Regions from separate parts of the Homo sapiens genome. Here region 2 is linked to region 1. Evidence: fine-mapped expression QTL. A gene starts in region 1. The other region holds a variant in brackets. All regions are shown on one strand. Distances are between the middles of the regions. Region 1 holds the start of WDFY4 (WDFY family member 4). Region 2 overlaps WDFY4 (WDFY family member 4).

Region 1 (10,295 bases):
TAGCACCAGGCATATGGTAGTGTGGAGATGGTAGAGGAATACATGGATACATAAATCATGAGAGGCCTTATCCAGCACCTTATTGGAGCTCATACCCAAAGTGATGCCAGCACTCTTGATCTCACACACCAAAGATAAATGTGCTTAGCCTCAAGGACTTGTTCTTAGCTTGAAAGCTCCTTGGGGAAAGCATTCTTATTTATTATTTGTGCCTCCAAAACACACCTTAGGACTTGGTCCTGGAAAATCCTAGTGCCAACTGAAATGGGTTGAATGGCCTGTGTTCACCTGGTGATGGCTCATGGTTCTTCATCTTCTCAGTGGGCTCCTTTTGAGTTTTATGTTAACTCTACCAATATGGAGTTGGATCTTCAGGCCAGCTTTGAAAATTATGACAGAATTCGCTCATTTGTAGTTTTCCAATCCTCCCTCCTTCCTCCAAGTCTCATGGGATGTCAACAGTGGTATTGATCATTTCTTCTGCAGGCTCCAGGTGTCCTGTGGGTTTATCTTCCATTTGCACCAGTACTCACATCTCCCTGAAAGTACAATCTGATGGTGGGATCCTCTCTCTTTTTCTGGAGTTAATTACTATCCCCTTGGGGAATATGGAAATGCAACCAGCACACAGGAAGCTGCTTTCTCTCCAGGTTTGTTAAACATGTCCTGTTGCTGTGTAAATAGTTTTCTTTTTTTCTCCCAAGATGGTATAGAAAATACATTGTAATAATGAAGTAGGGAAGTGCTTGCAATGAATTAAGTGAAAGAAAAACCCAACCAATTATGAAGGGGAATATATGGCATGATTCCCATTTGTTAAGAACAAAAAATAAGACCAAAGAAATATACTTTGGTAAACATGGAAAAAAAGACTGAAATGCTATTGCTCAGCATAGGGTATTAGTGAGTTTTATTTTATTCCTTCTTCTTTTTATTTTTACATACTATTTAGAATTAACATGCTTCATTTTAAAAGTCAGAAAAATATTTATTTTTAAAAGTATTAACTTTTTAGTATATGGCCCTGATAAGTGATGGTAAGTGCTCTGAAGAGATCATAGTGGAGACCGACAGCCTACCAAAATGCATTCTCTCTAATAACAGGATCGAGGCTGGCCCATGGCTGGTCTACACTTCCCAGTCTTCCTTGCAGCTCGATATGGCCATGTGGTTACAATAGCATGTGAGCCAAAGCGATGTAGACCACTCAGAGGCTGGGCCTTTATGGGCAGAGGTATGTCTTGTCTTGTCCACTCCCTTTCCTTTTTTACAGGCTGGATGCAGACGACAAGGCTATATGGGACAATGGAGCAATATTCCTAAATTGCTATATGGGGGAGAACCACCTGCCAACTTGAACAACTGGTGTAGACTGCTCTGCAGCAAGGAAGTAAACTCCATAGCAGCTCTGCTCTGTTCATCATTGTTTCTTCAGGGCCTACCTGGGACCTGGCACAGAGGAGATGCTCTGTGTGTGTTTGTTGATTGGAACTAAACTTTTACTTTTCTGACATCTTTGTCACAAAGCCATGAAGAAATTACATATCCTTATGACAATTTACTTAGAGTAAATAAAATACTATTTTTGTGTAAAATGTGAGATTGCAACAATATGCTTCCATTGATTTCTCAGTCTTTGGTGCTGTAGTTGTGAAATACATTCTATCCACGTATGCTATCAACTCCAAAGTACAGCACTGCAATTTTCACTTTAAGCAGTCATAGTCTTTTAAAGAAGTTAAAATAATGAAAAGTACATGGTTTGTTTTTATTTACTCACACATTTGCTATTAATAGTGCTTTTCTTTTTTTCCTATAGATCCAAGTTTCCATCTGGCATCTTTTCCCTTCAGCTTCAAAAACTGCCTTTAGAATTTCTTATATTGCAAGGATGCTGGAGATGAATGATCTCAGCTTTTATTCACCTGAAATGAATGTATTTTATTCTCATTTTTACAGAGACATTCATTGGCTATTGAATTATTGGTTAACAATTTTTGTTGTTTTCCTTTAGCATATTAAAGATGTCTTTCTATTCTCTTATGGCATTCACTGCTTCTGATAAAACATCAGCCTTAAATAGTATTTTTGTTTCTCTTTGGGTAATATTTTTTTCTTTCTGACTGCTTTCTTGCTCTCTGACTGTTTTAAGATAATACATTTGTTTCTGATGTTTGACTATGATGTGCTAAGTGTGTTTTTTCTTTGCACTTGGTGATGCTTGAGTTTTACTAAATTTATCATGTCTGCAATTTGCCGTTTTTCAATAAACCTGGGAAATTTCAAACATCATTTCTGCAAATGTGCTTTTCTGCCCTCCTCTCTCTCTGAGACCCCATTTACACATATATTATACCATTTCATATTGTCCCAAGAGCAGCTGAGTTTGTTTTTTTTCATCAATATTTTCCCCCTCTGTCCTTCAAATTGTATAATTTTTATTAATAAGTCTTTAAGTTCATTAACCCTTTTTTTCCTGTGGCCACCAATTTGCTGTTGGTCTATCAGTAAAATTTTTACTTCAGATATACTTTTCAGTTCTAGAATTTACATTTGAATCTTCTTGTATTTTCGATTTTTTTTTTTTTTGCTGAAATTTGCCTGCTTTTTTTTTAAGTTCCTGAATATATTTCTGATAGCTGCTTTAAAGTTCCTGTGAAATAATTCCAACATCTGGTTCATCTTGGGGTCTATTTCTATTGACAGTTTTTTATTTCTTGTTATGGGTTACATTCTTTTGCTTTTTCAGATTTCTACTAATTTTAACTCTATGCTAGATAGCATGGATGTTAAATTGAAAGGAGGCTGCATTAAGTTTTCTTCCTTTAAAGCATCTTGAGTTTTGTTCTGGTTGGCAGTTAAATTCCTTGGCTGCAGTGGCTCACACCTGTAATCTCAGCACTTTGGGAGGCTGAGGTGATGGGATCGCTTGAGCTCATTAGTTTGAGACCAGCCTGGCCAACACGGTGAAACAGTGTCTCTATTAAAAGCACAAAAAATCAGCTGGGCATGGTGGCACGTGTTTATAATCCCAGCTACTTGGGAGGCTGAGGCATGAGAATTGCTTGAAGCCAGGAGGTGGAGGTTGCAGTGAGCCGAGATCACCCCACTGCCCTCCAGCCTGGAGGACAGAGCCAGACCGTCTCAAAAAAAATTACTGGAATATCCTTTTAATTCTGTCAGTCTTGCTTCTTTTATTCTTTGTTTGGTTGTATTAGGGTCCTCCAGAGAGACAGAACCAATTGGATATACATATATATATATATATATATATATGTATATGTGTGTATATATCTATATATATACATGCCTGCTCTTGTTTGTTTATTTCTTTATGTATTACAAGGAATTGGCTCATATGATTATAGAGGATGAGAAGTCTTAAGATCTTCAGTCAACAAACTGGAGACCCAGAAGAGCCAATGGTGTAAGGTCCAGTCTGAGTTCAAAGGCCTGAGAATCAGAAGAGCCAGTGTTGTAAGTGTTCCAGTCCAAGGGCAGGAGATGACTGATGTTCCATCTCAAGGAGTCAAGCAGCCAAAGTGTCCTCTTACTCAGCCTTCTGTTCTATTCAGGTCTTCAACCGATTGGAAACCACCCATGCATATTAGGGAGAACAGTCTGCTTGACTCAGCCTACTGATTCGAATGTTCATCTCATCCAAAAATACCCTCACAGACATGCCCAGAATAATGTCTCGCCAAATGTTTGGGCACCTCATGGCCCAGTCAAGTTAACTCATAAAAGTAACTTATCACATGGAGCTATTTTATTTCAATTTTGAACTTGTTCCAACTTTATGGCTTTTATTCTAGGCTGTGGTTCTTACTTCTTCAGTGTGGAGTCTGAGCTTCAGAGTTTTATGGTTTTAAATTTCCTCTCATCATTACCTTCATGTTTAGCCTGCAGGAGGACTCCTCTGATTGGTGTTTCAAGTTTGGTCTGCGGATTGGGGAGGAAGGAATACAAGAGGGCAGCTCTGAGCTTGGTGGGGTGAGGGCTCTGAGGTGTAAAGTGAAGTCCCACAATGCTCAGCAAGGTCTCTCCACACTCCATGGGATGCGACTGCAACATTCCAAGCACTGCACATTCTCTGTTACCTCCTTCAGTGCTCGGCCTTGGGTCAGTTGACCTCTGCTGGGTCTCTTGGAGTCTCACCCTGTGCACACATAGGAATCCTTGGCCAAGGGCACACACAATGAGTTCCCACAAGGCACACTCTCCTCAGGAACCTGCCCTGAACATACCAGAGCCTTCAGCAGCTTTGAACTCTGACTTAAACCTTTTCAGTTCAGGGAGACTACTGTCTCTGGGGCCCCACCTGCCTGCATCATAGCAGAAAAAGCATCACTAGAAAAAACTCCAGGGCAATTGTGGGGCTCACCTTGTGTGTTTTCCTTATCTCAAGGATCACAGTCTTGCTATTCAATGCCTGAAAACAATTATCTTGTGTATTTGAACTATTCTATAGTTGCTTTCAATGGGAGGGTATGTCCTATACCAGTTACACCACCATAACTGGGTGCAGAAGTAAAACTGCCATTTTGGGGCAATTGTTTAAAAATCAGAGAATCTTACATTGCCCTTTAACAAAAATACACATTTACATTAGCAGTTCATAGTTGCCCTGGCTGCTTCAGTGTCTTAGCTTTGGCAACTCTCTCACTAATAATAGCTTGCATTTGCACAGCCCTTTTCAGTATTTAAAAACTCTCTTGGCCGGGTGCGCTGGCTTACGCCTGTAATCCCAGCACTCTGGGAGGCCGAGATGGGCGGATCACGAGGTCGGGAGATCGAGACCATCCTGTCTAACACGGTGAAACCCCGTCTCTACTAAAAATACAAAAAATTAGCCAGGCGAGGTGGTGGGCGCCTGTAGTCCCAGCTACTCAGGAGGCTGAGGCAGGAGAATGGCGTGAACCCCGGGGGGCGGAGCCTGCAGTGAGCCGAGATCGCGTCACTGCACTCCAGCCTGGGCGACAGCGAGACTCCGTCTCAAAAAAAAAAAACCTCTCTTGCAAATATTATTTGATTTGTTCCTTCTAACAAGGCATTCATTCATTCTGCAAATAAGATGTCAATTATCTCAGTTAAGATAGTGAGAATTTCAACCTTGAGTTTCTAGCTCTGAATTTAGTGCTCTTTACCTGCCTGCTGCTGGCTACCCGGCAAGGTGCTGGGGTGGGTAGAAGGTAGGAGACCTGGGTGCAGGTGGGCCCTCCAGCAGACTTTGCGAGATCCCACTATGACAGACTCTCCGCGCTTCCTCTGGGCATTCACAGGCATGGGGTCCTGGCCTGTCCCATGCTGGCCACCCTTCCTGCCTCTGTGGAAGTTCCTCTGTCTAATCCGCTCTTACCATAGGCCTCTGATTTCAGGCAATATCTTCTTGTAGATTTTATTTATGATTTCATTGGTGACAATGACGAGGGGTTTTCATCATATACAACAAACACTTCACTGCAAATTCTCTAAGGTTTTCTCTTTCCCTTGGCTGGCACTGCATGTATCCTTTCAATTTCTCTTTTCTTTTCTTTTTTTTCTTTTTTTTTTTTTTGAGACGGAGCTTCGCTCTTGCTGTCCAGACTGGAGTGCAGCTGGATAGATCTCCTATTTTGGCTGCTGTCTACTGACAAGTTTGCACTGGTGGAGGTTGAGGTTTTGTGACAAATGTTATTTTCCTCTTTAAACCAATCTTGGAGCTTTACTCCATGTCATAACAAGTGATGTTGTTGCTGCCTCTCAGTCAGTCATGCATGGTCCACTGGTTTTGTGAGCTAGAGACAAGCGATGAGCTGCACTGAGGATCAAGGATCAGGCATTAGCGCTAACAAGTGCCCTTGCTCTTTGGCAAAATTCTCCTTTTACAGAGCACAAGCAGGATTGTGTGTGAATGGACATGCTTGTTTGTACTGTGGAGATGACGTTATGGATAGGTGACATGGATAATTCAGCCTAGTTTATATACTCAGAGGAATGAGAATTTGGAGTCTGAGTTTCAGAGACTTCCATTCTATGGTTTTAGATGTCCTCTCATCCTTGCCTCAGTGTTGGCCGCAGGAGGACTCCCCTCATTGGTGGTTCAAGTTCTATCTGAGGATGGGGGAGGAAGAAATCCAAGTGGGCAACTCTGAGCTTGGTGGGGTGAGGGCTGCCCAACCCATGCCATGTCCAGGGGTGCACTTAAACACACCTCTGATTAGATTCACCTAACACCATCATTGTTCTCATTTTGCCAGAGGCCCAGAGAGGAGAGGTGTGCACCAGTGGTCACACGGCTAGTGAAGAGGGGACACAGAATCCAGACCTACTCTTCTAGGGCTGGGCTGTACTTTCCATTTTGTCCTTGGCCCCAACCAGCACCGCTTGACCACGGAGGCTGCACAGCCAGCCCCAAGGGGCCTTGCTGCAGAACCCAAGTCACCCGCCAGAACTCCAGCAGCTCCGTGGTCGGCTGGAGAGTGGGCAGAGTCAGGCATCTGCCGGCTCTCCACTTCTGCTTTCTCCAGGAAATGAGCAGAGACCCAGCTCCAGTGATTCAGAGTGAAACGGCGCTGAGGACTGACGATGTGGGGCCGGGTCCTCTTCCCCCGAGCCTGAGGGGCTGCAGCTGGGGATAGGGGGCCCATGCCTTCTGATGTCTACAGGCGCTGACGGCCACCCCTCCAGGTAGGCCACCTTGCTCTTGGCCCAGCCAGGCCAGCCTAGAGGTGGGCATATGGGCGCCGCCTGTCAGCGTGGGGCCTACTGGCTGCCTCCTGGGAGGCTGACTATGGGGCACATGTGACCCAGTGCCTGGTTTGGGTTTGTGAATGTGGGAGAGGAGGTGAGCTGGGGAGCAGGAAGTGTGTGTGGCGTGGGGGGCCCATGTGGTCAGGGCCACTCCAGGGCCTGGGTCTGCCTGAGTGTGTGTCACTGCTGAAGTTTGGGAGTCAGGCTGGGCTCCAGCAGCACTCCTCGACCTCTGACGGTAGGTCAAGTCCTTTCTCGGGGTCCTGCTATGAAGGGAACCCTGGGAAGGGCTGACACGGGCTTTCCTGGTTGTCGAGGGGGCGGAGAGAGCAGGCCGACAGGACAGTGAGGCTCGCCCTCCAAGCTCCCTCATAGGCCTCTGAGGAGTGCAGAGTTGGAGGGCCATTTCCAACGGGCCTCAGAGGGAGCTGGTCTATCCCGGCCCTGTCATTACTCCACTGGGTTCTGGTAAGTAGGTGCCTCCCTGGGCTCACTTCCCTCATCTGAATTATTACAGCAAACCATTGAAACGCCTGCATTTTCTGCCTAAGCAGGGCCACCTGCTCAGTAAGGACTGATTCTTCTTTTCCCCTGAAATGAAACTTCTAGAACACTAAACCGATCCTTTGTCCCAACTCATCTAAAGTGTGGGGGGGCTGGTTTGATAACTAAGGGCTCTATGCATTACCCTTTCCATGGAGCACACTAATTTTAATATGAGTTTATGTATAGTCATTCATTTAGTTATTTAACAAATAGGTATTGAGAAACCACGCCCTGCCAGGCTCTGGTCAAAGCGGACAGGGGTCTACGGTGCTCAGCAGGTGGGAGAATAGCAGGTAGGGTGGGGGTCTTGGGAGGGTGGGGATGGCTCTAGTCTTCTGAGAGGGGACCTGTGAGGGAGGCCGAGTCCTGTGGGTTTCTGAGAAGTGTTCTTGATAAGGGTCTGGAGGAGGAGACCTCGTGGAGGTTGGTGTGGCAGAGCCGGGTAAGGGGCATGCCTGGGGTTCTGGCCAGAGAGGTAGGGAACAGGGTCAGGTCAGGGAGGCCCTTCCTGTCTGTCCATCCTGAGCACATGGGCTATTCTTTCATGAACTTGGAAAGATTTTCTGTGTTGAAAGAAAAGAAAATTTCGGCCAGGCGCAGTGGTTCACGCCTGTAATCTCAGCACTTTGGGAGGCTGAGAGGGGCAGATCACCTGAGGTCAGGAGTTCAAGACCAGTCTGGACAACACGATGAAACTCCATCTCCAAAAAAAAAAAAAAAAAAGAAGGAAAGAAAAGAAAATTTAGAAAGACCATAATAAGATAGAAGTAATAAAAACAGCATAAACCCTGTGTGCTGACACCTTAGATTTTTTTAAAGATCAGCATCATCTCTGAGGTCCTCTTCATGCCCATCTTTCACCTTCCCTCTTCAGAAGCAGCAACAGTCCAGAATTTTGGGTTTATTGTTCCCTTGCTTCTTTTTCTAATTTTACATCCCATATTTAAATCGCTATATATGTATGATTGCAAGTTGTTGAACTCTGTAAACATGGAATTAAATATTCTTTTAAAATTTGCCTAATTGGTTCAAAAGTTTGTTTCTGAAATTTCTTCATATTGTTGCATGTACCTGTAGATAATTAAAGTTTTCTGCAGTACAGTATTCTATTAGATGAGTGTACCTCAATATATTTATCTGAGATGCTGTTGATGGCATTTTAGGTATTTCAAGAGTTTATTTTTTTTTCTATTATAAGCAGTGCCGCTAGAACTATTTTTGTACATGCATCTTGGGGCATGTGTGCAAGAATTTATCTTGGGTATATACTCTAGAAATAGAATTGGTGGGTCATAGGTTGTACATATCGTCAGCCTTACTGGATGTCACCACGTTGTTTTCCAAAGTTTTTGCCTCATTTTACCCACCCCTCAGCAATGCACCAAAGTTTCTGTTGCTCCACTTCTTCATCAGCATTTGATATTGTCTGGTACTGTATTTCTGCCAATCTGGTAGAAATGAAAAGCTATCTTAGCATGTTTTTAATTTGCATTGACCAAATTACTAAGGTTGGACATCTTTTTCATATGTTTATTGGCCATTTGGGGTCCCTTTTCCTGTTCACATTTTTTGGCCATTTCTCATCGGGTTACCTGTCTTTTATCCTATTGATTTGCCATAATTCAATACATATTCTGGGTACTACTTTTTGTCATTTATATATATAACAAATATTTTTCATTTGTTGGTGCCTTGTCTCCTTATATTCCTGTGGTTTTTATTAATGACTGAATTTCTTAGTTTCAAATAAGTTTATCCACCTGTCGCTTTATGATTTATACTTGTTATGTGTTATCTAAGAAATTCTCCACTATAAGGTTGTAAAATTATTCTCATATTATTTTCAAAAAATGTTATAATATTACTTTTTACACTGAAGTCTCTAGTCTGCCTGGAAATGGCTTTTGTGTATGGCGTGAGGTGGGAAGAAACTTTATTTTATTCTGCTTTTCCCATATGGATAACCAAGAGTCTTGGCACCATTTATTTAATAGGCCATTCTTTTTTTTTTTTTTTTTTTTTGAGATGGAGTCTTGCTCTGTCACCCAGGCTGGAGTGCAATGGCATGATCTTGGCTCACTGCAACCTCCACCTCCCAGGTTCAAGCAATTATCCTGCCTCAGCCTCCCTAGTAGCTGAGATTACAGGTACATGCCACCACACCTGGCTAATTTTTTTTTTTTTTTTTTGAGACAGATTCTTGTTCTGTCACCCAGGCTGGAGTGCGGTGGTGCGATCTCAGCTCACTGCAACCTCCACCTCCCAGGTTCAAGCGATTCCTCTGCCTCAGCCTCTCCAGTAGCTGGGACTACTGGCGTGCGCCACCACATCTGTCTAATTTTTGGGTTTTTTAGTAGGGATGGGGTTTCACTGTGTTGGTCAGGCTGGTCTTGAACTCCTGACCTCAGGTGATCCACCCACCTCGGCCTCCCAAAGTGCTGGGATTACAGGCATGAGCCACCACACCCGGCCTAATAGGCCATTCTTTAGTCACTGATCCATGATAGCTCTGTTGTGAGTTGAGTTGTCATGTGCATGGGGGTCTTTCCTGGTTCTCTATTCTGTCAATTTGTCTAACCCTTTGACAATGCTAGACAACATTGTTAACCACAGGTTTATAATAAATTTCGGTATCTGGAAAGAGCCTCCCCATTCTTTTCTTCTTCCATCCTGTCTTGAGAATTCTTGGTATTTTACTCATTCATATAAATTTCAGAATTGGCTTTCAACAGAAAAAAAAACTATGTTCAGATTTGACTGGAAATATAATTTGGAAAGAAGTGATATCTTTATGAAAATGACTTTTCCAATTCATAAACGTGGTCTGTCTCTCCACTTATTTAGGTCTTCTCTAAAGTATTTAAATACAATGTTACTATTTTCTTTATAGCAGTAGTGCATATTTTGACTAGACATATCCCTAAGTGGTTTATATTTTTATATTGTGTCAATTGTCATTAAAATACATTTTTGGACTGTTGCTATTTGGACTGATTCTTGTTCAAAATGCAAGCATT
Region 2 (10,295 bases), 93 kb after region 1:
ATTGCATAATCCATACATGTCAAAATGCTTAGAAAAGGGCCTGCTGCAGCCTAAATACCCAGGAAATATTCTCATCCCAGGATAAAATTTGGCCCTCACAGTAGATGCCAGGCCTTGAGTCCCTTCTAACTTCAAGAGCCTTGTGAAATGTGTGAGAGGCTGCAGGGACCACCCCATCTGCTGTGCTCGATGTTGTAAATTCTCTGCTGGAGCACGTTTCAAACTGTGCTGGGACAATGTGTCTGCCCACGTGTATCACCTTTAATCTGTGAATCCCTTGAAAGCAGGGACAGTGTCTTATTCATCTTTAAACGCCTAGAGCTTTACCCAGAAGTTGATGTTGAGAGCCACTTCATTCTTGTTTGAGAAAGAATAGGAAGAGAGGAAGCAGGGAGGACTCCAAGAAAGCTCTTACTGGGTGGTGTAACAGGTGGTCTGTGATGTGAAGAGACCAGACCCTAGTCCTCCTTAGAAAGAGATTATTCAGGTAGTGCATTCACAGCTTCTCCTGGCTTCACTTTGGTGGTCTAGAACTCATTTACATGGCCATTGATCTCCTTTCTTGAAACTACAAACTGCGGCAAAGGTATAAAACATGGAAAGAATGCTGGTGCCTCAGGTCGGGTTCCCTGGGAGTGGAGCCTGAGACAGGGGTCCAGGTATGTGGGATTTGTTGAGGGAAGGACTCGGGAGGGAAGGAGAGTGAGGGAAGCCGGGCAGGGAAAGAGCTGAAGGAGGATGCGCTCACAGCAAAGTCTTGTCTCAGCCGGAGCCCCTGGGATTCTGAGGCATGAATTGCACAACACAGTCCCGAGGGCACTGGCCTCATTGGCTCCAGCCTGGAGTATGTGTGTGTGTGCACACAGGCATGTATGGTGTGTGTGGATGTGTGTGTGGACACATGTGCGTGTACCTGTGTGTATGGACGCGTGTGCGTGTGTATGTAAGTAGGGGGCATGTAAGTGTGTGTGTATGTGTATTTGGGTGGGTAGGGCTCCATGGCCCCTGGGCAGGGCAGCTCTTACCTAGTGGAGGGCAGTTCTTTTTTTTTTTTTTTTTTGCATTTTCTTTTTTTTTTTTTTTATTATACTTTAAGTTTTAGGGTACATGTGCACATTGTGCAGGTTAGTTACATATGTATACATGTGCCATGCTGGTGCGCTGCACCCACTAACTCGTCATCTAGCATTAGGTATATCTCCCAATGCTATCCCTCCCCCTTACCCCCACCCCACCACAGTCCCCAGAGTGTGCTATTCCCCTTCCTGTGTCCATGTGATCTCATTGTTCAATTCCCACCTATGAGTGAGAATATGCGGTGTTTGGTTTTTTGTTCTTGCGATAGTTTACTGAGAATGGTGATTTCCAATTTCATCCATGTCCCTACAAAGGACATGAACTCATCATTTTTTATGGCTGCATAGTATTCCATGGTGTATATGTGCCACATTTTCTTAATCCAGTCTATCATTGTTGGACTTTTGGGTTGGTTCCAAGTCTTTGCTATTGTGAATAATGCCGCAATAAACATACGTGTGCATGTGTCTTTATAGCAGCATGAGAAAAAAATGCTCATCATCACTGGCCATCAGAGAAATGCAAATCAAAACCACAATGAGATACCATCTCACACCAGTTAGAATGGCAATCATTAAAAAGTCAGGAAACAACAGGTGCTGGAGAGGATGTGGAGAAATAGGAACACTTTTACACTGTTGGTGGGACTGTAAACTAGTTCAACCATTGTGGAGGGCAGTTCTGCAGAGAAGGGGAAGCCGTGGCAGGTATACCTCTCATCTGGAGAAGGAGATCTGCATGGAGCACAGTAGCATCCACTGGGACAAGGAAAATTCCATTAAGATCTAACCTGTATCCCTCTCACTTGATACGACATCTTATCCAGCAACAAAAGAGAATGTGGACAGTCCTAAGAGTTTTTGTAAAGGAACATCCCACCCAATCCAAACCCTTTATCCAGCCTGGGAAGGATAATTCCAAAGATTTATCTTTTACAATGAAAGAATGATTGTAAAAGCAATGTGTGGTATTAGGCTCAAATATTTACTGAGCCCAGTCTATGCACTCTTTTCTATGTGCTTCAAAGGACATAAGCAGAGGGAAGTAGCTGGAAACCTAGTTCAGGGTTAAGATAAGAGCACAGCTATTCATGTGGCAGCATGTGCTTAGGACTGAGGGACAGGCACAGGATGATGGGAGGGTGGGCGGAGGGAGATGGCACCCAGGGGATGAGAGTGGCTTCAGCAAACGCTTCTCCCCAGAGACTTTAGTTGGCCTGCAGACTTTGAGTGTGGTTTGAGATGTCTGTGGTGGGGCCTGTATCTGTCAAGGCAGAGTGTGTATGTTTGGTAAGTGGTACTTCTTTTAGTCTTGTACTCCCAGGCAGATTCCACCTTTTACTCCGGGGGTGCGAACTCCAACACAGGAACTGTTAGGGGAGTAAAGCCAAGCTGGGGGGGATGTTGGACCCCTGGAGGGCACAGCTCCCACCCAGCACCAGCCACCTTCCCCCCACAGAGGTGCAAGCCAGCATGGCCAGATCGTCCCATCTTTTGAGAGAGGCCACAAGTCTGGATTTTTATGTGACATCTTCAGACTTTTCAATGCTAGCAGTTAATTCAGAAACTGCTGAAATATTGTGTGGGTCAAACACAGCACGTCTAAGAGGCAGACGCAGCCTCCTGCCTGCTGGCATGTGGCCTCCATCTTTAGCCATTGACCTCTCCCCACACTGACCTGGGCAGCTTGTGTCCTGCCAGAGGCTGCCTCCCACAGACTTGCCCCCCGCCAGGTGAGGAGGGCACTGGAAGAACCCTGAGACAGGCGTGGGTGTAGTGGGGATGGGGTATGGTGGGCGCAGTCTCCTTGTTCCACAACTCACCCCAGGCCAAGTTGGAGCCTATAAAAGCTGTCCACAAGGTGTTCTGCCCTGGAGGGCTCACAGCTTGCTTTGGTCACTCTTAGCTTTCCGAGGAGATCCAGTGCTCCCTGGCCAGTCATATCCAGTCCCTGGTGAAGTCGGAGAAGAACCGCCAGGTCATGTGCGAAGCAGGCTTGCTTGGGACCCTCATGGCCTCCTGCCACAGGGCCCTGGTCACCAGTGGCAGCCCCCTCCACTCACGCCTCATCAGGATCTTTGAGAAGCTCGCTTCCCAGGCCATTGAACCGGATGTGCTAAGGTACCACATGCTGCATATTCAGTGCCGCCAAGCTGGGCAGCCATGTCCTTTGCAGGGCAGGGGTTGCACAATGGGCAGTGGAGAGACTGCAGGGACAGATGGAGGGCACGGCTCTGTCCTGGCATTCAAGGCTGGAGTCCATGGCTGAGCCTTGGGTCTGTGCCAGGCAGTGTGCAGGTGCCCACAAAGCAGACATAGCCCCCTCTAATGGATCACGTGGGGGCTGGAGGGGGCTCCAAGGAAGTGGAGCTGCATTCCGAGGCCTGTAGAGTTCACTAGACAAAGAGAGGAGGGAACTGGGCCTGGAAGGCTCTGCCGGGAGGGGTGGGGCTGGGAGGGGCTGACTGTGTCCTGTAGGGAGTTGGGCAGTAAGCATGTAGGGACTGCAGACATGGAGGAGGATGGGGCAGAACCCACCTGGATCCTCCAGGGGGCTTTCCTGCTGTCAGCCTCTACATGAAGCCACATTCCTGGAGAGCCATGGCAGGGAGAGAAAGTGCAAAGGTGCACAGGGTGGGAAGCAGGGAGCAGACGTGGAAGACAAGAGAGCAGAGGGAAGGGAAGCTACTGGGGAGGGCAGGAGTCTCCTATGCCACCTGGAGTGCTGAGGGCCATGCACAGAGCGGGGGGCCCTGCTGCTTATACACAGGAGCAAGTGTAGAGGGCGCACAGACAGCCTTTCCAGCCAGCAGACATGGGACCCAGGGGCGGGCACGACAGCTGCCAGAGGAGGCTGCTGGTTATAGTGCTGCATGGGAAATTCCATTAGAAACTTATAAACAATTACTACAAATTTACTTTGTGACATTATTTTTTGTTATGACATCCATCTTGAGGCTCCTAAACTTACCAGCTCTCTGGTCTGGTCTGGCTGGCAGGGCAGAGACACCCTGTCTCCACATTGCTTTCAGAAAGGGTGTTCCAGTGGGGCTGGGAGGTCAGGGAGCTCCAGGCATCTAGGACAGTTGTCAGGATAAAGTTGGAGAACACTGTTGCTAGTAAAATGTCTTCATTTTTTCCTCTTGTATGTTATGTTCAGACAGTTTCTAGGTCTTGGAATTCCCTCATCTCTGTCGGCCACAACAAAAATCCTTGATTCAT[C/T]TCACACACACAGAGGCAACCCTGGGTGCTCAGGTGAGGACAGTGGCAAGAACGGGGCAGGTTAATGGGAAGTAAAAGATGATAGGCATTCCTGCTGAGGGATCCTTTACAACAGGTGGGAAAGCAAACAGGTTTAAACATGGTTTTGTCTGCTGCTCAATGCAGCAACTGAGGAAAAAGCAAAGAAATTCCTGGTCTCTGGAGAAAGACCATATCCAGATGGAGAAAGATGAACCCCCACCCAGACATATAAGACAGATGATCCCTTTGGGTTCCAGATCATGGAAGCAGAGACAGAGTTTCCTTCATGACACAGCAGTACGTGGCGCTGCACTAGACAGAGGTGTGCAGGGAAGGCTTCTGTACAGCTCACAGCTCAAGGGCATGTCAGAGCCTTGGAGGCCCAAGATGCAGGTGGTACCCCTGTGTCAGGCCTAGTACCTGGGGAATGTTGGCCAGGGAACCAGCTTAGAGAAAAGAAACTCGTGGACATCTTGAATGTAAGATCACATAAGACCTCAAGGAAACAGGCAGGCCCAGTGGAGAAGCAAGGGTGCGGGATCAGGCTTGGGGCTGACAGCTGCGGTGGGAGCCCAGAGCTTACAAGGAGAGGCTGCTGTGAAGGAAAGTGTGGGCTTTGTGAGCAGACACAAAGCTCCAGTGAGTAACTCCAATGGGGCAAGCCAGAGACAGAGGTGGCAGCAGTAGAATGTGCTATGCTGGAAAAGGGATCTGTGCTGGAATGAAAGAAAAGTTTCTAGAAGGAGCAGGTTAGCAACACCATTCCTTGTTATCAGACTCAGCAGGGGGCCCGGGCTGGGGGCCAGGGAGCCACCCTCGCTGGTGCTTAGGAAGTACCTGGTGACTGTGCGAAACTCTCTTTCTGGGCTGCGGCAGATACTTTGGGGTTATTGTCAGAAGCGAGACAGAAATGCTTTGAGCAGAGACACATCTCTTCTCTTGCTTGCTGCCCTAGGGTCACAGACTGCACAGGGCTTGGCTGAGGGGCCCTGGCCAGCTGCCCCAGATGCTGGGCTGCACCCTGGAGTCACACAGGCCCCGCAGCCCTTGGGGGAATCCCAGGATTCAACTACTGCTCTTCAGACGGCGCTGAGCCTCATCTCCATGACCTCCCCACGCAACCTGCAGCCTCAGAGGGCAGCCCTGGCCCCATCGTTTGTGGAATTTGACATGTCCGTGGAAGGTTATGGGTATGACAGGCTTTCACATATTTAAAATGCACTTTATTAATTTTGCAGTGCCTCTGATGAATTATAATATTGATTGCAAACTTGTAGTTCCCATTGAATCTCACCACTCAGCAGAGGAAAATGTCTGGGTCATGGACACCCGCCTACTCAGCGGCCTCCCAGGGGCTGTGTCCCCAGCTATGGAGGGCCAAGACCCTCTTTTCCCTGGTGTGGCTGCATTCTGGAACACCCTCCCATCCTGCCTGCAGTGCAATTCCTTCCCTTAGGCATCCTACCAGCACCAGCTGCAGTCCATCCTTGGGACCTTATGGTCTAAGGAGGGTTACAGTGCCGGCAGGAGGGTAGAGTGGGAAGATGTCATGGCCCAGACTAGCTGTGTCAGTGCAAGAGATTGGCTTGCAGTCCAATGATCTGAGACAATTTTCTATTTCCAGCTGTTTGTTTATTCCAACCCTGTCCACAGTTATGGGAACCAGCACTGAGTACTCTGTCTCTGGAGGAATTGGGACAGGTAGGTGTTTTTCCCAGATGGTTTAGCTCTCCATCCCTTCCAAAGTATGAGTCTTCAGATAGCCTTGATTGCAGATTTTTACTTGGTGTTTCAATAAAGTGTGAGCTGTGCTGGGCATGGTGGCTCACACCTGTAATACTGCAATTTGGGAGGCCAAGACAGGAGGATTGTTTGAGGCCAGGAGTTCCAGGCTGCAGTGAACTATGATTGAACCACTGCACTCCAACCTGGGCTACAGTGTAAGACCCAGTTTCAAAAAAAGAAAAGCAAACATGAGTCTTGCCTTGGTCCTGAGTATCTGCAGATGAGTTGTTCTTCAACTTTGCTCCTCTTTTAGAGCAAGATGTTCTGTTCATTGTGCATCCCAAGGGTCCAGCCTATAGCTAGGGACTCAATTGACATTGAAAAATTGGCTCATTTCGCTGGTGACTGATGTAGGCTGAGATGGACACATTACCTGCCTTAGATCTCTCTCTAGAGAGAAATATGAGTTGGGCTGATGGCCGTTGAGAATAGACCAATCTTTGGCAAGTGGCTTCTATGCACAGCACTGCACTTAGCTGAAAACACGCTGGGTGGGACAGTGCAAGTGCCTGATGCTGCCTGAGCCACACGCTCTGTTAGGAGAATTGGGTTTGGGGTTTCTATGGGATCATGGGTGCTGGGGAGCCATTGCCTTCATGACGTTTTTCCATGTGAGTTGGCACCAAGTCTGAGGACACAGCAGCTGATCCTGCCTGTTCTGTGAGGACAATGGACCTGTCTATATCGCCAACCCTGTTATGTGATGGGAGGGCACATGGCATTCCTAGATTGGTGCCCTTTCCTATCCAAGGTTCAGCTGAGCTAGGCCAAGGTCCTCTGCCCCACAGAGCACACTGCCTGGCTATAGATCAGCTGACCAGGAGCCCACGTGTGACGGACCTCAGGGAGATCGAGATCTTCTCTGCTCCCTTGGCAAGGCAGCATGCCATAATGGGGAGGAGACAACTGGTGATTAGGCAAGACACCCAGTAGGTGCTGCACCTGGGCTAAATCAGCACCATAGTGAATCTGAACATGCATGCTCAGCAGGGCAGAACAAAGCCTGAGGGCATGCCTGTGTTCCCACCCAGGTGCCACCAGACCGTTCCCTCCTCCTGGAGGTCTGACCTTCTCCTGCTGGTTCCTGATCAGCCGGCATGGAGCTGCCACTGAGGGCCACCCGCTGCGCTTCCTGACGTTGGTGCGCCACCTGGCCAGGACTGAGCAACCCTTTGTTTGCTTCTCCGTCAGCCTCTGCCCAGACGACCTCTCCTTGGTTGTTTCTACAGAAGAGAAGGAGTTTCAGCCTCTGGGTAAGGTGCTGGGATCCAAAGCCAGTTTCATCCACATGTGGGGGAAATGGGGCTAAGTCAGAAGCTCTCAACACAGGTGTGGTTAGAAACCTGGTGACCTTCTGTTTCTCCTCATCCTTTGAAATTGCTCCCTTGGGTTCCATACCTGGTGAAAGGTCTACAATATTTGTTGTGGTTCACTGTGGCCTGGGCTCTAGGCTTGTAAGTGTCAGGCAGATGAGGCCCCAGCCCTTGGCACAGCTTCAGAGATGATGCTCAGTGGCTTTTCAGAAACTTCGCCCTGGCAGAACAGTCACAATGGGACCCAGGGCTTTGCCTTGCTGGGACACAGGCTGCATCCTCTCCTGAGTGAGGTTTGTGAAGAACACACACAATTTAGCTGGAGCCGAAGCAGCTACAGACATATAGGCGCTCCCACATATGCTCAACCCCAAACCCAGAAGGCTGGCCCATGCTTGGCATGGCGCCCAGGGCCACCCCTCCTTTGGCAGTGCTAGAGGCCAGCCCTGGCTCTGCCCTTTGGAGCCCAGCGTTGTTCTCCAGGCTCATTTGCCTGAGATGGTCAAGTCCAGTGGATTCTGTCCACTTGTTCTTCTCCTGTGTCCTGAGAGTGTCACTGTTTCATAGGGAAAAACATTGGGAGGCCCTATGAAACAGTGGAAGCGGCTGACACCCTTGTACACAGCACAACTGCCTATCCAACTCTCTGGGACTCGGCCTACAATGGAGTCTCTGTGGAGGTAGTCTACCTTGGGATAGACCTGAAGCCTGGCTTCTGGGTTTGAATCCTGGCTGTATGACCTTGGGCAAGTCACCCAACCTCTCTGTGCCTCAGGATGGTAAATTGGGCATGTATGAGCGCCTACCTCACAGGGCTGTGAACATGACATGAGTTGATATTTGTAACATGCTTAAAACTGGCACAAAGGAAGAGCTCAAAGAATGACTGCTGCTATTGCTGCTGCTGTTGTCATTTTTCATGAGAGGAGGATCTAGGGCTCCATGGTACAAGGCCCAGTGGTTGACGTCCGCCTATGCCCTCCCCATTCTCCTGGGTTCCTGCAGTGTAGCACCACACGTGAGACTCAGTGTTCATGCTGTCTTCCAGATGTCATGGAACCTGAGGATGACTCCGAGCCTTCTGCAGGATGCCAGCTTCAGGTCAGGTGTGGCCAGCTCCTGGCTTGTGGTCAGTGGCATCACTTGGCTGTGGTTGTCACTAAGGAAATGAAAAGGCATTGTACAGTTTCCACCTGTCTGGATGGACAGGTCATTGGCTCTGCCAAGGTGAGATGGCTCCTCCAAGCTGCACTTGCCCCACAACCATACCTCCTGCTACTACCCTGAAGTGGCCTCGGTTTCATTCTATGTTTTTGTTGTTGTTTGTTTGTTTGTTTATTACTGGTAGGGTTGGCATCTAATGAAATCTGCCTTACTGTTCAGGAAACTTGGCTGAGTTCAGACATGAAAAGGACATCTTTAGAAAATGCATTGAAGGTCACGCTACCAGGGCAGAAGGCAAGACATGCATCCAGGTCTCTAAGAATAGTCATGTTCATGAAAATAGAAAACTCCAGAATGAACAAAGCAAAGCTTCTCATTTTGAGGGGCAAACTCCTCAGGGAGGTCTGGGCAGGGCCTAAGGTATGACTTTTCCAAGAAGCTCCCAGGTGAGGCCAACGCAGCTCATCTTTGCACCACACGGAGGAGCAGGACACTAGAGTGGGCAGACACCAACACGTGTCGTCAGATTTAGAGCAAGAACCATGAGGAAGGTAATAGAATGCAAATGTATAGCTGGAGGAAGCATCTCATGGCTGTCATTTAGAGACACCCCAGGTATAAGAGAAAGCTGGGAAAAGGTGGAGCTGGCAGGCGCCAGCAGCCATTGTCAGAGAAGAGAGGGCCCGGAGGACCATAGAAGGCAGGTAGGGCTGGATTTTCACACAAGTTCCAGGGAGAGCATCCCAAGCTGGCTGCATTTTAAAATCACCTGCAAAGGCTTTTTAAAGTTCTCTTGCACAGGCTGCACCCAGAATAATTACATCAGAATCTCTCTGGGTCAGGTAATTTGACAACTTACTAATGTTTGTAAAATTTTCTAGGTGATTCTAATATGCAGCCAGAATGGAGAACCTTACATACACAGGGTTTCTGGATTCCCCCTAAATGCCATAGTGTTCCTCCCCTGACCTTGCCCAGTTGTGACCACCAGTAACATCTCCAGACATTTCCAAATATACCCTGGGGGTCAAAGTTGTTCCAGGTTAAGAGTCATCAGATGAGAACAAATTCTTAGTCCCAAATTCTGTGGGACACATATAGGTGAATTTGATACCATCTGCTGGTAAAGTTCTGTTATCAAAAAAAGGCAGTGATGACCAAATATATATATATGTGTGTGTGTGTGTGTATATATATATGTGTGTGTGTGTATATATATATATGTGTGTGTGTGTGTATATATATATATGTTTTTTTGAGATAGGATTTCGCTCTTGTCGCCCAGGCTGGAGTGCAATGGTGCGATCTCAGCTCTCCGCAACCACTGCCTCCAGGATTCAAGCGATTCTCCTTTCTCAACCTCCTGACTAGGTGGGATTACAAGCGCCCACCACCATGCCCACTAATTTTTGTATTTTTAGTAGAGACGGGGTTTCACCAGGCTGGCCAGGCTGGTCTGAAACTCCTGACCTCAGGCGATCCACCTGCCTTGCCCTCCCAAAGTGCTGGGATAACAGGTGTGAGCCACTGCGCCTGGCTGACCAGAAAGATTTTGACAGGGGCATTGAAAGAACAGGTCCTTCAAAACATAGTTAACCTTTTCTGCAATTATTAACAATATCAGTCCTCCCTCCTTCCCTTTCTCTCTTTCTTCTTTTCCTCATTAAATATTTATTGAGCACCTGTTATGTGTTAGCTAATATTTTAGGTGCTA

Evidence for each region.
Region 2: its variant is fine-mapped to the expression of WDFY4 in whole blood (TOPMed, PIP 0.93).

Annotation. Positions count from the first base shown.
Region 1 is chr10:48,678,333-48,688,627 of GRCh38, forward strand. WDFY4 (WDFY family member 4) reads left to right here and starts at 6,541. Exons shown (of 62, transcript NM_001394531.1): 1 at 6,541-6,669. RefSeq lists silencers at 1,348-1,612, 5,763-5,812 and enhancers at 5,463-5,542, 6,473-6,772, 6,791-7,331.
Region 2 is chr10:48,771,476-48,781,770 of GRCh38, forward strand. WDFY4 (WDFY family member 4) reads left to right here. Exons shown (of 62, transcript NM_001394531.1): 14 at 2,983-3,197; 15 at 4,237-4,331; 16 at 5,275-5,509; 17 at 5,944-6,020; 18 at 7,136-7,357; 19 at 8,466-8,644. Among named protein-coding and RNA genes, the nearest start is that of WDFY4, 92 kb to the left of the region's middle. The variant C/T (reference allele first, on the strand shown) is at 4,299.